Regions from separate parts of the Homo sapiens genome. Here region 2 is linked to region 1. The links come from fine-mapping of genetic effects on gene expression. Tissue or cell type: whole blood. Region 1 holds a variant in brackets; the other region holds the start of a gene. All regions are shown on one strand. Distances are between the middles of the regions.

What was found. PIP is the estimated chance that this variant, and not a neighbour inherited with it, causes the effect.
Region 2: TPP1 starts here. The variant in region 1 is fine-mapped to the expression of TPP1 in whole blood (INTERVAL, PIP above 0.99).

What each region holds. Positions count from the first base shown.
Region 1 is chr11:6,759,609-6,765,096 of GRCh38, forward strand. No RefSeq gene overlaps it. Among named protein-coding and RNA genes, the nearest start is that of OR2AG2, 9.6 kb to the right of the region's middle. The variant C/A (reference allele first, on the strand shown) is at 2,308.
Region 2 is chr11:6,617,359-6,621,358 of GRCh38, forward strand. TPP1 (tripeptidyl peptidase 1) reads right to left here and starts at 2,064. Exons shown (of 13, transcript NM_000391.4): 1 at 2,026-2,064; 2 at 1,838-1,909; 3 at 1,418-1,557; 4 at 268-418; 5 at 1-70. The coding sequence starts at 2,042. DCHS1 (dachsous cadherin-related 1) reads right to left here. Exons shown (of 21, transcript NM_003737.4): 21 at 3,972-4,000. RefSeq lists a silencer at 1,785-1,834 and an enhancer at 2,385-2,434.

The DNA.
Region 1 (5,488 bases):
TTCAGTAGAGACAGGTTTTACCATGTTGGCCAGGCTGATCTCGAGCTCCTGACTGTGTGATCTGCCTGCCTCAGCCTCCCAAAGTGCTGGAATTACAGGTGTGAGCCACTGCGCCTGGCCTCGTAGTTCATTTTCTTTGTTGTATAATGCATTGTATGACTAGATCACAGTTTATTTATCCTTTATGCTGATGAACAAACATGTGGGTTGTTTTCAGCTTTGGGGTATTTTAAACAGTGTTGCTATAAATAGTTTTGCACATGTCTTTTGGTGCACATATACACACATTTCTGTCAGGCATATACAACAAGTAGAATTGCTTGGTTATGGCATATACATATCTTCAACTTCAGTAGAGAATACCAACCAGTTAAAAAAATTTTTTTATTATACTTTAAGTTCTAGGGTACAGTGCAGAACGTGCAGTTTTGTTACATAGGTATATACATGCCATGGTGGTTTGCTGCACCCATCAACCCGTCACCTACCTTAGGTATTTCTCCTAATGCTATCCCTCCCCCAGTCCCCCACCCATGACAGGCCCCAGTGTGTGATACCTCCCTATGTCCATGTGTTCTCATTGTTCAACTCCCACTTATGAGTAAGAACATGCGGTGTTTGGTTTTCTGTTCTTAGTTTGCTGAGAATGATGGTTTCCAGCATCATCCATGTCCCTGCAAAGGACATCGTTTTCATGGCTGCATGGTATTCCATGGTGCATATGTGCCACATTTTCTTAATCCAGCCTATCACTGATGGGCATTTGGGTTGGTTTCAAGTCTTTGCTATTGTGAATAGTGCTGCAATAAACATACATGTGCACGTGTCTATACAGTAGAATAATTTATAATCCTTTGAGTATATACTCAGTAATGGGATTGCTGGGTCAAATGGTATTTCTGGTTCTAGATCTTTGAGGACTCATCACATTGTATTCCACAATCATTGAACTAATTTACACTCCCACCAACAGTGTAAAATTGTCCCTATTTCTCCACATCCTCTTCAGCATCTGTTGTTGCCTGGCTTTTTAATGATCACCATTCTAACTGGGGTGAGATGGTATCTCATTGTGGTTTTGATTTGCATTTCTCTAATGACCAGTGATGATGAGCTTTTTTTCCTACGTTTGTTGGCTGCATAAATGTCTTCTTTTGAGAAGTGTCTGTTCATATCCTTCATCCACTTTTTGATGGGGTTGTTTTTTTTCTTGTAAATTTGTTTAAGTTCTTTGTAGATTCTGTATATTAGCCCTTTGTCAGATGGATAGATTGCAAAAATTTTCTCCTATTCTGTAGGTTGCATGTTCACTCTGATGATAGTTTCTTTTGCTGTGCAGTAACTCTTTAGTTTAATTAGATCCCATTTGTCAATTTTGGCTTTTGTTGCCATTGCTTTTTGTGTTTTAGTCATGAAGTCTTTGCCCATGCCTATGTCCCGAATGGTATTGCCTAGGTTTTCTTCTAGGGTTTTTATGGTTTTAGGTCTAACATTTAAGTCTTTAATCCATCTTGAATTAATTTTTGTATAAAGTGTAAGGAAGGGGTCCAGTTTCAGTTGTCCGCATATGGCTAGTTTTCCCAACACCTTTTATTAAACAGGGAATCCTTTCCCCATTACTTGTTTTTGTCAGATTTGTCAAAGATCAGATGGTTGTAGACATGTGGTGTTATTTCTGAGGCCTCTCTGTTCCATTGGTCTAGATATCTGTTTTGGTACCAGTACCATGCTGTTTTTGTTACTTTAGCCTTGCAGTATAGTTTAAAGTCAGGTAGCATGATGCCTCCAGCTTTGTTCTTTTTGTTTAGGATTTTCTTGGCCATGCGGCCTCTTTTTTGGTTCCATATGAAATTTAAAGTAGTTTTTTCCAGTTCTGTGAACAAAGTTAATGAGAGCTTGATGGAGATAGCATTGAATCTATAAATTACTTTGGGCATGTGTGAGGAAGGTACTTGTTCTAGCACTCACCAAATTCCAGATAAGAGACACGAAGTTCTCCAGTAGTACTTTTCAATCTCTCATCAACAAACTTAAGATTAGTTCCTTCTTTCCTTATGGAGGGAGGGGTAAAAGAATACTCTGAGAGATAACTTCAAATATTCCTCTCCACCAACCTCCAACTGTCTCTCTCTTTCATACCCTAAAAAAGTTGAAGGCTTAACGCTTGTATGCCATCTCTTGATCACCTCCATGTACGTCCTCCCTAATGGTGTAGCACCTCAGTTTAGAATGTGGAGGTACATGGCAAATATTGTTTTATTTTTAGATTTCAGGTAATATTTCTATGGTATGACATTAGTATAGAGA[C/A]AATAATCTAACTGAACTTTTGGGAAGTTGAGTCAAGGAGTGTAAGCTTAAAATAATGTACCATAATATTTATGAGTCTGCTCCACTAGAGCATATTATTATTCATATACTCATATTATTATGAGTTCATGATAATTATGAGTCTGCTCCACCAGACTCATCATTCAATTATTTCTTTTTCTTTTTGAACATTCTAGTAAATTTAAGAATATACTTCTGGAAATTCATTGTTATAAACTTTATTGTTTTACACTGTAGCAAATGAGGGCAATGCCCACTACATATTCTTTTAACTTATCATTTCAGGGCATGCTGACATCTGACAGCCATCTTTTGCAACAGAACTTTCTTTGGCTAACATGCCAGTTATGCCCACTTGCCCAGAAGATCAGAATGGCCTAAGATACTAATGTGCCCTACACCAAGCCGCCTTAATTGATAATTGATGAGAATTGGTGTGTAAAAACCCCTAGATTTCTGATAGAGTTTGGATGTTGTCCCCTCTAAATCTCATATTGAATTGTAATCCCCAGTGCTGGAGGAGGAGCCTGGTGGGAGGTGACTGGGACATCGGTGTAGATCCCTCATGGCTTGGTGCTGTCCTCCCAATAGTGACTATTCACAAGATCTGATTGTTTAAAAGTGTGTGGTACCTTCTCTCCCCTACTCTCTCTCGCTCCCTCTCTTGCCATGTGACATGTCTGCTCCCGCTTTGCCTTCACCACCATAAATAAAAGCTCCCTGAAGCCTCACCAGATCTGAGTAGTTGCCAGTGCCAGGCTTCCTGTACAGCCTGCAGAACTGTGACCCAATTAAGCCTTTCTTTATAAATTACCCAATCTCATGTATTTTTTATAGCAATGTAAGAATGGCCTACACAATCTCTTACATCGTAGTTGAGGTATACCTCTGAGATACATGTTCTACTCTTTCCAAGAATTCCTTAAGAAGATTAGGAATCAGTTGCCCACAATAAGACAACTCACTCGTTATTGAGTCTTTTCTTTGTCTGTTTCCCTCTTGCAAATTCTACTAGTTTTTCCTGGAATTACTTCCTAAATATATTACGTATTCAAATTCTTGCTCAGAATCAAATTCTGAGGGAACCCACATTAAGATAAACTGATTGTTCCTCAGCAAAAAAACAAAGCTGGAGGCATCATGCTACCTGAATTCAAACTATATTACAAGGCTACAGTAACCAAAACAGCATGGTACTGGTACCAAAACAGAGATAAAGACCAATGGAACAGAACAGAGCCCTCAGAAATAATACCACACATCCACAAACATCTGATCTTTGACAAACCTGACAAAAACAAGAAATGGGGAAAGGATTCCCTATTTAATAAATGGTGCTTGGAAAACTGGCTAGCCACATGTAGAAAGCTGAAACTGGATCCCTTCCTTACACCTTATACAAAAATTAATTCAAGGTGAATTAAAGACTTAAATGTTAGACCTAAAACCATAAAAGCCCTAGAACAAAATCTAGGCAATACCATTTAGGACCTAGGCATGGGCAAGGACTTCATGACTAAAACACCAAAAGCAATGGCAACAAAAGCCAAAATAGACAAATGGGATCTAATGAAACTAAAGAGCTTCTGCACAGCAAAAGAAACTACCATCAGAGTGAACAGGCAACCTACAGAATGGGAGAAAAATTTTGCAATCTACCCATCTGACAAAGTGCTAATATACAGAATCTACAAAGAACTTAAACAAATTTACAAGAAAAAAACAAACAACCCTATCAAAAAGGGGGCAAAGGATATGAACAGACACTTCTCAAAAGAAGACATTTATGCAGCCAACAGACACATCAAAAAATGCTCATCATCACTGGTCATTAGAGAAACGCAAATCAAAACCACAATGAGATACCATCTCACCCCAGTTAGAATGGTGATCATTAAAAAGTCAGGAAACCACAGGTGCTGGAAAGGATGTGGAGAAATAGGAATGCTTTTACACTGTTGGTGGGAGTGTAAACTAGTTCAACCATTGTGGAAGACAGTGTGGCGAGTCTTCAAGGATCTAGAACTAGAAATACCATTTGACCCAGTGACCCCATTACTGGATATATACCCAAAGGATTATAAATCATGTGACTATAAAGACACATGCACACATATGTTTACTGCAGCACTATTCACAATAGCAAAGACTTGGAACCAACCCAAATGTCCAACAATGATAGACTAGATTAAGAAAATGTGGCACATATACACCATGGAATACTATGCAGCCATAAAAACGGATGAATTCTTGTCCTTTGCAGGGACATGGATGAAGCTGGAAACCATCACTCTGAGCAAACTATCACAAGGACAGAAAACCAAACACCACATGTTCTCACTCATAGGTGGGAATTGAACAATGACTACATATGGACACAGGGCGGGGAACATCACACACTGGGACCTGTCGTGGGGTGGGGAACTGGGGGAGGTATAGCATTAGGAGAAATACCTAATGTAAATCACGAGTTAATGGGTGAGCAAAACAGCATAGCACATGTATACCTATGTAACAAACCTGCACGTTGCGCACATGTACCCTAGAACTTAAAGTAAAAAAAAAAAAAAAGAAGAACTGTTTGTAATTGTTTTCCCTTGCCTGAAAATTGTCTTTGAATTCATGCTGTCTCTGCCTACTTTGGAAGTATTTCTCTGATACCAAAGGCAGAGAATGACACTACAAGAAAACAAAATTACAGGCCAATTCATCTAATGAACATAGATGCAAAAATTCTCAACAAAAATATGACCAAACCAAACTCAACCGAACATTGAAAAGATCATTCACAATGATCAATCTGGGATTTACTTCGAGGATGCAAGGATGGTTCAACGTGTGCAAAACAGTAAATGTGATATGCTGCATTTATACAGTGAAGCTTCTGCATAGCAAAGGAAATAATCATTAGAGTGAAAAGACAACCTATAGAACGGATACAAATATTTTGAATCATACATCTAATAAAGGGTTAATATCCAAAATATATCAGGAACTCAACTCAATAGCAGGAATAACCTGAGTAATACATGGGGAAAGAACCTAAATTGACATTTCTTAAAAGAAGACATAAAAATGGCCAACATGTATATGAAAAGGTTCTTAAGATTCATAATCTTCAGGGAAATGGAAATCAAATGAGATATCACCTTACATGAGA
Region 2 (4,000 bases), 140 kb before region 1:
AACATGGGTTTCCGTAGGTCCTCCCACATAGTGATGAAACTCAGCCCCAGGGAGCAGCAGCTCTGCTTGTCTGGAGGTCAGAGAACAGAGGTCAGAAAGCTCAAAACGGAACAGAAGAAGCTACCTCTGAGCATCCCTGGGCAGTCAGTCACTGTCTCCCCATGCATTAGCTCCCACCCACAAGCCCCAGCAAGCTCTCAACTCCCTCCCATCCATCTCACTGATGGGATGACTGGTGCCCTCCATGGAGCAATCATTTCCTCTCACCGGATGCTCAGCCAGCAAGTCAGAAAGTCCTGTGTGATCACAGAATGGCACTTCTGGGCTCCGGCTGCCAAGAGCCATTTTTGCACCGTGTGGAGGGTCAGTGGGGATGGCCTCACCAGATCAGCCACATTCTCTAGGGTCAGGTATTTTCCTGCAGGGATTCAGAAGAGGCACTTGCCCTCATTCATTGCTTTCCCAAACTCCCCCTTTTGGACCTCAACTATGAGACATCAGGACTTCCCAAAGCCTGGAACAGGGTAAAGGAGGGCTATGTGTGCAGGTGTAGGGTGTACTTGGGAAGCAGAGGAAGAAAAGGCTGGAGAGACTTGAAATGCCATGGCCAATAATATGGATTTACCCTAAAGGCCAGTAAGTTGCAAATGTCGCACCACAGCATGTATTGCCATGATCATGAAAATGAATGAGGTTAATACATATAAATTTTCCATTTTAATTTTAAGCTTATGTCCGGTAAATGTTTTCAAATCTTTCGGTACCAGTTATTCAGTTTAGCTCAAATTTGCATACTTGTTGATTTTAAGCTTAACACGATGGTGAGTCACTGTTTCCTGCCATGCACACTAGTGTCACACTGCCCCGTCCCCAGCCTCTGCAGTTCACAAGCACACACTCCCCCTGCTGTGAAGGGCTTTAACCAGGAGAAGGAACCAATCCATTTTGACTGTTGGAGAGACTGTTTTGAAGCAGAGTGGGGGAGTACAGTGAGGGGTGGGGTGGAGGGAGGAGACTGCAGATCAGCTGGGGAGCTGGGCAGTAGTCCAGGAGTGGGAATAAATAACGGAGTTGGTCGTAACAAAAGACGGCAAGAAGGAGATTAATCCAAAGGCTCTTTGGGAGTTAGAACTGGCAGCCTTAGTATGTGAACAAAAGAGGAAATTAGAATGGATTTGAGGGTAGGGGAAGGAACGTAAGTTGTACTAGATGCCTGGTAGCTAGTAAGTAGCAGAGTCAGAATTTGAGTTCGTATTTGATCATAAAGCCTGTATACTGAACCACATCCCCTTTTAGGTTTCTAGCCTGAGGAACACAAGTGTCTTGGCAGGCTCTGACATGATCGCCATCCCATGCCCAACCCAGCCCTGTGTCCCTCCACCGCATCCCACATCCTGTCCTCAGTCCCAAAAGGCACCGTATTGAGGAGAGCTGGGATCCGACACAGCCTGCACCAGCTCCGAGAGTCTTTCCACATTCTGCTGTCTCAGGGCAAAGGTGAGACTCAGCTCTTCCTCAGGGTCCGCACGGCCCAGGGACACCCAGCCTGGGGGCAGCCTGTAGGGTCAGGGGTCAGGGACATGGCTTTGGTTAGGGTGGAGATGGAAAATATTGGTCATGGAAGGTTCCAGATTAGGAGCTGAGACCTTGGGGAGGATCCTAGGAGCAGATACAGATCACATGAGGTGAATGATAGGGGACTGAGGCTAGGAACATAGAGATGAAGCTATGGAGTGCGTACTAGGAGCTGGCACGGGGGTGAGAGAAGCTAGGACCAGGACAGTGGGAGGCAGAACAGGGTATGGGGAAGGGGGCAGTCTGTGCTAAGTCAACTCACGTCCTCCGCTGGTCGGGCTCCGGGCTGTAACTGCATTTGCCAGAGAGGATGAGGGCAAAGAGCCCTAGGAGGCTGTAGGGGCAGCAGGTGGGTTTCAGTGGGAGCTACGTTGTCCTTGTGTTCCCACCCTCCCAATGTGTGCTCCCTCCAACGTGATCCCTTTCTCCCGAGCCCTCTCAATTTCTCACCAGGCTTGGAGTCCCATTCTGCCCTTCCGCGGATCTGCTGTCATGTGACGGATCACATGAGCTCTATATTCCACCACCACTACCCCTCTGCCTAGTAACTAGTGACGGTACTGGCTCCTCCCTTGCATGGGTGGTCCCAAATGCTAGGCAAGGGTGGGGCCGCCACCCGGATTCTCCCCTCTGGCCAGTCAAGCACTGAGTAAGCCCAGGGCTCCCCACCTGCGTCCTGAGCCTGGTCCCCTGGGAATCACCACAAGTGAGTGGGCTGTAGAGACCCACAGACTGGGGTTCTTCCTAGCTGTATGACATCAGCAAAATAACCTCTCAGAGCCTAGGTTTCTGCATTTACAATATGGAGACTTATATAAAAGTGATCTGCCTCGAAAGATTGCAGTGAAAAAATTTTTTTCCTCTTTTATCCTTTATGTCCCCATATTATCAATTTTGTCTTCATTTTACGACTACATTTATGAACAGAGTAAAGCTTTTGCAAGACCAGGATCCTTTTATTCAAATCAGTTTCCAGTTTTAAGTAGCTTCCCAGGAGATCTACAATCAGCTGGGGTCCTGTTTATTATGGGTTCCCAAGGTTTTCAAGGAAATCAACTTTGTTCTAAGGGCCATGGAGGAATCTTGCATCTTGTTTAGTGGGCTCAGGTGGATAAAATGGAAACGGACCTTTGCTTCTTCTAATGGTAACTCAAAGCCCACAAGGAGGTCTGAGTTTACTACTTCCAACTGGGGTCATTACAAGAGGATTTTCAATGAGAGTTAAAACCCTGAGGATTCAATTCCCTTCCAGTCTTCCTTTTTTTCCCCCCAAAAATCCATATGGAAGATGGTGTCAGCAGTGTCATTTTAACTTCCAAAACCATTAATCCAATACTCATGTGAAATCCCTTGTTCTGACCTCAATACTTTTTAGATAGATCCCTCTACTCCTGCTGTTGTCCTACAGGCCACTGGCTTCCATTAACCTATAGATTATATTCCCACACTGAAGATTATGGCACTTCACCTTTCTGTCCATCCCAACTCCTGCGATCATTTGACCTAGATGATCAAAATATCTAGGTAAAAGACCCATTCAACACCCTAACCTTCCATTTCTTCATCTCATTAAACCCAGTGAGCATTACCTTCACTTCACTTAAGCAAACCAGTCCCATGGCTGCATTGGGCTTGCTATCTCTCAAAACTGCTCTACCTTTGAAATTATAATTATAGAATGCTTTCTTAGACTATAACCTTCTGTTTTTTCAAGCCATTGTTTTTCCTCACTCCTATTAATCTGACTTCTCTCTGTCCATTGATCCCTCCAGTTTCCCACTAAGCGTGGATCCTAGAGCTGTATTTACTAGCATCATGCTCAGAAACATTTCCCTTTGACCACAACTTTTTTTTTTTTTTCTAATTTCCTCAATCTCATGAACTTCTCAAACACTGGCCAATTGCCTTTCCCTCACAGCCTGGCTCCCCAAAGAACAGGCAACACCAGTGGTTCCCAAATCCCTTTGTATGACTGTGAAAATTTACACTGAGATTAAGCAAGGCAGCCACCTGCAGAGAGCCTGACATGACAAAGGCTCAACAAATTGAGCTCTTTTTACAATGTGGATTTTTAGTGGCCCCCAAGAAGAACAAATAAACCACTTGACTGCTCTTGTACCCACCCCAACTTATTTTAAGAACTTCGGGCCCAGAGCTGCTCATCCCCAAGATCCCCTCTCCCACCCAACTGATCCCTCTCAAGGCCCTGCTGGCCTCTTTGCCCATATTAGAGGGAAAAGAATAGCTGCAGAGAGATGTGATCATCAGCCTCAGGCTAGGCTCCTGAGCTCCCAGTGCCATCCCCACCCCACCACCCCTCTGTGCCTCCTGAGGTATCCACAATACTCTGCCAGGTGTCTTCCAGTCATCCCTATAGAACAAAGCTGGAGACTGGATACAAATTGCAGTTTATTAAGGCTCCAGA